2 separate regions of the Homo sapiens genome follow, and region 1 is linked to region 2. The links come from fine-mapping of genetic effects on gene expression. A gene starts in region 2. The other region holds a variant in brackets. All regions are shown on one strand. Distances are between the middles of the regions.

Region 1 (2,500 bases), 230 kb before region 2:
AGGTTTAAGTGCTTCTCCTTCCTCAGCCTCCTAAGTAGCTGGGATTACAGGCACGCACCACCACATCCAGCTAAGTTTTGTATCTTTAATAGAGATGGGGTTTTGCCATGGTGGTCAGGCTGGTCTCCAACTCCTGACCTCAAGGGATTCATCCACCTCGGCCTCCCGAAGTGCTGGGATTACAGGCGTGAGCCACTGCACCCGGCCTAAAATAAGTATATAAATGACTTTTTATAAATGAATTAATTAGGTGATCAAAACTAAAAGAAGAAAATCCCACCAAAATAGTCTTGTCTCTTTAAGTGCCAAACTAAATGTTCTATGTGAAAATATGTTACAGAAGAGAAGGCATAAGAGGGAGAGACCAGGAAAACATACTTGTACTGTGAACTTCCTAAAAAAGCAGTATTCCTAGGTACCTCTGGGGTCTTCTGCTTACATGAAATGCTGGGAAGCCGTAAGATACCCATTTGATTGGTTTACATTTCTTGATAGACACTCTACCCTACTTCAGTGTTTTAATGGTAATCTTGACTTTTACATCTTAAGGAAGGGTCCAACCAGGACTCATAAAAGCAGAATATAAGAGAATTAATAAAAACAACCAGAAGTTAAAGACATGAAATGTCTCTCTGGTCTAGACATTTTCATGTCTTGGTCTTAGACAGTAGTCTAATTTCACAGTTGAAATGAACTATTATTAATGTTTAATTATTTCAAAGTATTTTAACCAGAAAACCTTAACATTTAAAATACACATCCACAGAATGAAAGCTGCAAAAATGTCAAATGTGTTTTCATAGCCTTTCCATAGAGGAGTGGGAGAAGGGAACAAGGGCAAACTTCCAAAATATAATCACTATAGATACTAGTGATTTATGTGACTTTATTGTATCTATAAAGTATTATCTTTAAGACACACAGAAATAAAACAACTTAAAAATACATTTTCCTAGTCAGATAGCTTATGAGGGAACAAATCACCAAGAAAAAAGAGTATCAGGGATATATTTTGCTTCTTGAATATTTAATAGGAATTACAGGCTGTTCTGCTTAAGAAAATCTAAATGCCAAAGAAGAGCCTTGGCATCAGTTTTAAAACAAATGAAAAAAGAAAATTTTGTTAAGAAGTATCATTTCAAACAAAAAGAGGCATAG[T/C]TGAACCAAACACGATTTGTAGATAACTACGATTAATTCTCAGTGCAAATTCCAAACCTAGTTTAGCTATCATTAAAACTGTTGAATTTGTTGGTTTGGGAATTATAGAAAATATTCCTAAAAGATGTTCCTCCTCTTTTTTTCAACAATTATATTGAAAACTGCTATACAATGAGTCAAATGTTAAGAAACACAGGCATATATCCAGTATATACTAAATGATAATAGTAATATATAATCTATTACTGAATAATGCTATTATGTCTGCCACCCTATTAAATGCAATCTCTAAGCAATACCACAGGAAAAAAATGAAAATACATTTTATTCATATAGATTTCTTTATATGCATATATTCTCGCAATGTGTGGAAATTTAAAGAAAATATCTTCTTTAATATAAACTATATGTATGACCTCAAAGCTCTACACGTAACTGATCCCTTTAATTAGCATCAAGGAAATAACTTTCTTCAAATAATATTTCAAATAACTCTTTGGAAGGGAACAGGCTTAAGTTCCTACTGATGCTCCATAATAACTGTTTTAAAAACATATAAAATATTGTCTTTTCAACTACACACAACACAAACTTCCTAGTTAAAACCATGGAACACATTAGAATTATGTTAGATAAATGAAGTTGGGTTATTTCCCAATTTCAAGAAGAAGATTAAAATGGCATCTTTAATAATATAAAAGGAAAAAAAATCTCAAAACAGAAAAGAATCTTTAAATGTATAAAACTAACATGGATTGCAAACAGACATCCTATAAACTTAAACAATTAACTATGGAAAAAGACAGCTAAAACATAACACCTAGATTTAAAATCAAATGCATTTTCCAAACACAAATATGTTACAGCATCAGACATAAAATTCAGATATTCCAGCTGTGACCTTTTCTATGATTGTATCCACATCAACACCCAAATAACTTGTCAGCTAAGAGACCACACTACGCAATGCCAATAAAAAGTTGGCATCATAGAGATTTACTAAAACCAAGAAATACTTTCTACTTGCTTTGGAAATAGGATTTCAAATCAAATCTTATCCATTCTTAAATATCTTCTCCTGCCTTCTCGTAGCTAAGGTGGGCTTCAAAGACTTTCATGAGCTGGACTCTACCAGTCTCTGCCCCCAACTCCCACCCACTCTGACTTCCTTTACAGCAGCCAAATGAATTACATGTGGCTGCCTCTTGCCTGACTGCTTCTGCAGATGCTTCTCTCTCCTCTAGAAACCTTTCCCCTCATCTCCCCACCCGGACCAATCCCATTTTGTACTTCATGAAAACAGAATCTACTCTGGGCAGCCTCCCCTAGCAAGAAATCTGGG
Region 2 (3,032 bases):
TTTCTGTATTTGCCAATTCAGTTGTAACACAGAGATACAATATTTGACACCTCCACCACCAACAAAGTCTCCTCTAAGGAGTCCTGACTTTGGTTAACCTTACCTGGGAGAATTAAAAGCTATGGCTGAAAACTCCTTCATAAAAACTAAAACTTTAGAAGTCTAAAATGGTGTTACAAGGTAGCCCATAATAAACAATGAATTATAGAAACTGAGATTTCAGTAACAACTGCTAAAAAGGTGTATTACACAATTTAACAAGATAACCAGATCATCAAAATTTAAATTTCTTAACAAATGTAAAAAATAAATAATATTCAATACTCTGAGGCACTGTGCTACTTTTTATCTATATGGTCGCAACATCAATGTTGCTATTCTCCCAATCCCTTGATGAGCAAACGGAGCCAATATCCAGGATCCCTCATATCGAGAGGTCAGTTACCGTCGTAAATAATCGTAGTAATAAAAACAATTTCTAATGCCAGAATTGAAAACGGACTGTGGCACCCAAATAGGGTCCAAGGTACATGGCGGCATGAAACTATTTCTCGCTTCTGACTCTTCTGCATCACGGTCTCCCAAAGGACTAGAGAATCTGAAGCTCTCATTGCCACATCTACAAATGAAAGTATCATGTTTAAAGAGCTCACAGGTTCTACGAATGGTCAGTATTTAATGAACGCACCCCACTACACAGAAACTCACCCAGCTGCAAACTCAGCTGCAAACTCACCACAGCGTGCTTTCAGACTCCACATTAATTTTTTTTAATTTTAGAAGCAAACAACTATTTTAAAAATATTATGTAATAATTTAAACTCTGGAAAGCCCCATACTCATCCCAGCAGCTCGGAAAACGGAAAGCAAAATTCGATTAGCTCCATTGTACCTAGCCAGGCTAACGTGCAAGATCACACACTCATCTTCGTCAGAGCGTCTCTGCCAATACCAAAGAACAACAAAGGCAAGTTGAGAAGTCTGCACAGGCTTAACTCAGCACTTGTTCGCTTTCCCAGCTTCAGAAAGAAGCTCTTCGAAGGCCCCGGGAACCAAGGGGACCTTGTGCATCCCATCAAGCCGGCCGCTCCGCTCGGCGCCGCTCGCGCAGCTTTTGTCTGGCCCGGTTGGGAGCCCAGGACGGGAGCCCGGGCCGCCCGCCTCCCGGCACCCCTTCTCTCTGGATCTTTCTTCACACCCATCACTCGCCAATGACTAGTTGTTGTGGGTTTCTCTCCCTCGCCCCCTCCCTTCCTTTCAAACGCGCCCCGGGCTCGCTGGCTTCTCCCACCCGGCAGGGGAGACTCGGGTTAGGAAGGGGGCCCGGGTGGGGTCTGGAAAAGGGAAACAGAGAGGGGCACACAAAGCCCGACTGACCCCAGGGCCGATCCCCTCCCTCTGCAAAGCAGCCTGGGCTCAGCGACCTACTGGTTGGATAAACAACCCTCGCATCCCGCTCCTCGCCAGGCTCCCACCTCAGGGCCGCCCCATCCCCCCAAAGTGCACCCAAGAGCCGATGACAGCGCTGGACATCGCCCCCACCCAGACCCGGCGCCCGCCACTGCGCGGGAGGGGCCAGGGCCGCGAGAGGGCTCGGGTCTGACCCTCCGCCCCCTGACCGGGTACTTACAGCCCTGTTTTTCGTTACTGTTGCCGCTGCGGACCAGAGAGCCGCCGCCTTCTCCTCCACCCCAATGAGGTTAAGCGCTTGGTGCGGGGATTAAAAAAAAAAAAAAAGAAAAAAAAAAAAAAGACCGAGAGAGCGAGAGAGACGCCGAGGGCGCCTGCGCAGTGCGGTCACCCTTTTTCTTCTTACCGCCACCAACCCGGGTACACCATAGAGAGCGTAAACCGAGACCAGAGAGGCGGCTGCCTCTCTATGGTAACGCCCCGCGCAGGCGCTGGCCTGGCCGTGTTAGGCTTCGCTGGCGTAAAGTCCCCGGGAGCTTTGCCCCTCACGGAGAACGTTAGTTGACCCTGATGGGGACCCGTAGGGTAAAGGTTTTGTTTTTGTTTTTTTTTACGGAAAAGGTTGTGGTTAGGCCCCTTGGAAAGTTGCGACAAAACTCGAGTTAGACAAGGAAGGTCGGAACTAAGTGGCCACAGCAACAATGCACCAGCAAGCAGGGAGCGTGATAGGAAGAGCTAAAGAGGAATCGGGAAACCCTGGGTAAAAGTCGTCCAAGTGGAACTTCCTTTGGTCGGGGGTCTGATACTCGAAGGAAACGGTCTTTCACTTCTGGGTTAGGGCGTCCGCCCAGAGGGCGACTGCAATGAAGGAAATTGTGCCCTGCGACTTCCCGTAACAGAGCTGTGTGTCCACGCTCCCTTTTCCGAGCAGGCGCGGACGCTTGTGCCGGAAGTAAACTTGTTAACGGTTCTTTGCCTTTTGGGGAGGGGAGACAGCCCAGAGAAGGCTTTGGAGACCCTTGAGTCGGCCAGCGAGCAGGGTTTCTTACTTGAGCGCCTCCACAAATAAACGCTCCTTCGCTCCTCCGTCGCGTGCGTTTCCCTGGGATAATAAGTGGGAAAGTGGTGGCTTTTATTTTTTTGAGACAGGGTCTCACCGCCGTCGCCCAGGCCGGATGGAGTGCAGTGGCGCGATCACGGCTCACTGCAGCCTCGACTTCCCAGGCTCAGGTGATCCTCCTGCCTTAGCCTCCCGAGTAGCTGGAATTACAGGCGTGCACCACCCCCCCCCAACTACTTTTTGTATTTTTTTGTAGAGATGGGTTTCACCATGTTTCCCAGCCTTGTCTCAAACTCCTGACCTCAAGTGATCCGCCGTCTTGGGTCTTCGAAAGTGCTGGGACAGCAGGAGTGAGCCACCGCATCTGGCCCGGAAAGTGTTTTGGAGCGTAGAAAAATGCAAATTATAGGGCTGCCTTCAAGGATCCCGAAGGACCCACAGATTTGCCGCATCAGGCTCCTATGCACGCCGGTAATTTGATGTGTTGAGATGCACTGCCCAGTGCGTTGTTTTTACTGGAGGAGCTTGTGTGCGGAGCTCCTTGCTAGTGTATGTGTTGGGA

Evidence for each region. PIP is the estimated chance that this variant, and not a neighbour inherited with it, causes the effect.
Region 1: its variant is fine-mapped to the expression of CLASP1 in whole blood (TOPMed, PIP above 0.99).

Annotation. Positions count from the first base shown.
Region 1 is chr2:121,421,636-121,424,135 of GRCh38, forward strand. The region is part of intron 22 of CLASP1 (cytoplasmic linker associated protein 1); the gene reads right to left. Among named protein-coding and RNA genes, the nearest start is that of CLASP1-AS1, 110 kb to the right of the region's middle. The variant T/C (reference allele first, on the strand shown) is at 1,159.
Region 2 is chr2:121,647,742-121,650,773 of GRCh38, forward strand. It overlaps CLASP1 (cytoplasmic linker associated protein 1), which reads right to left and starts at 1,721. Exons shown (of 41, transcript NM_001395891.1): 1 at 1,631-1,721. NIFK-AS1 (NIFK antisense RNA 1) reads left to right here and starts at 1,913. Exons shown (of 4, transcript NR_037857.1): 1 at 1,913-2,640; 2 at 2,727-2,941. RefSeq lists enhancers at 675-1,303, 1,304-1,930, 1,962-2,231.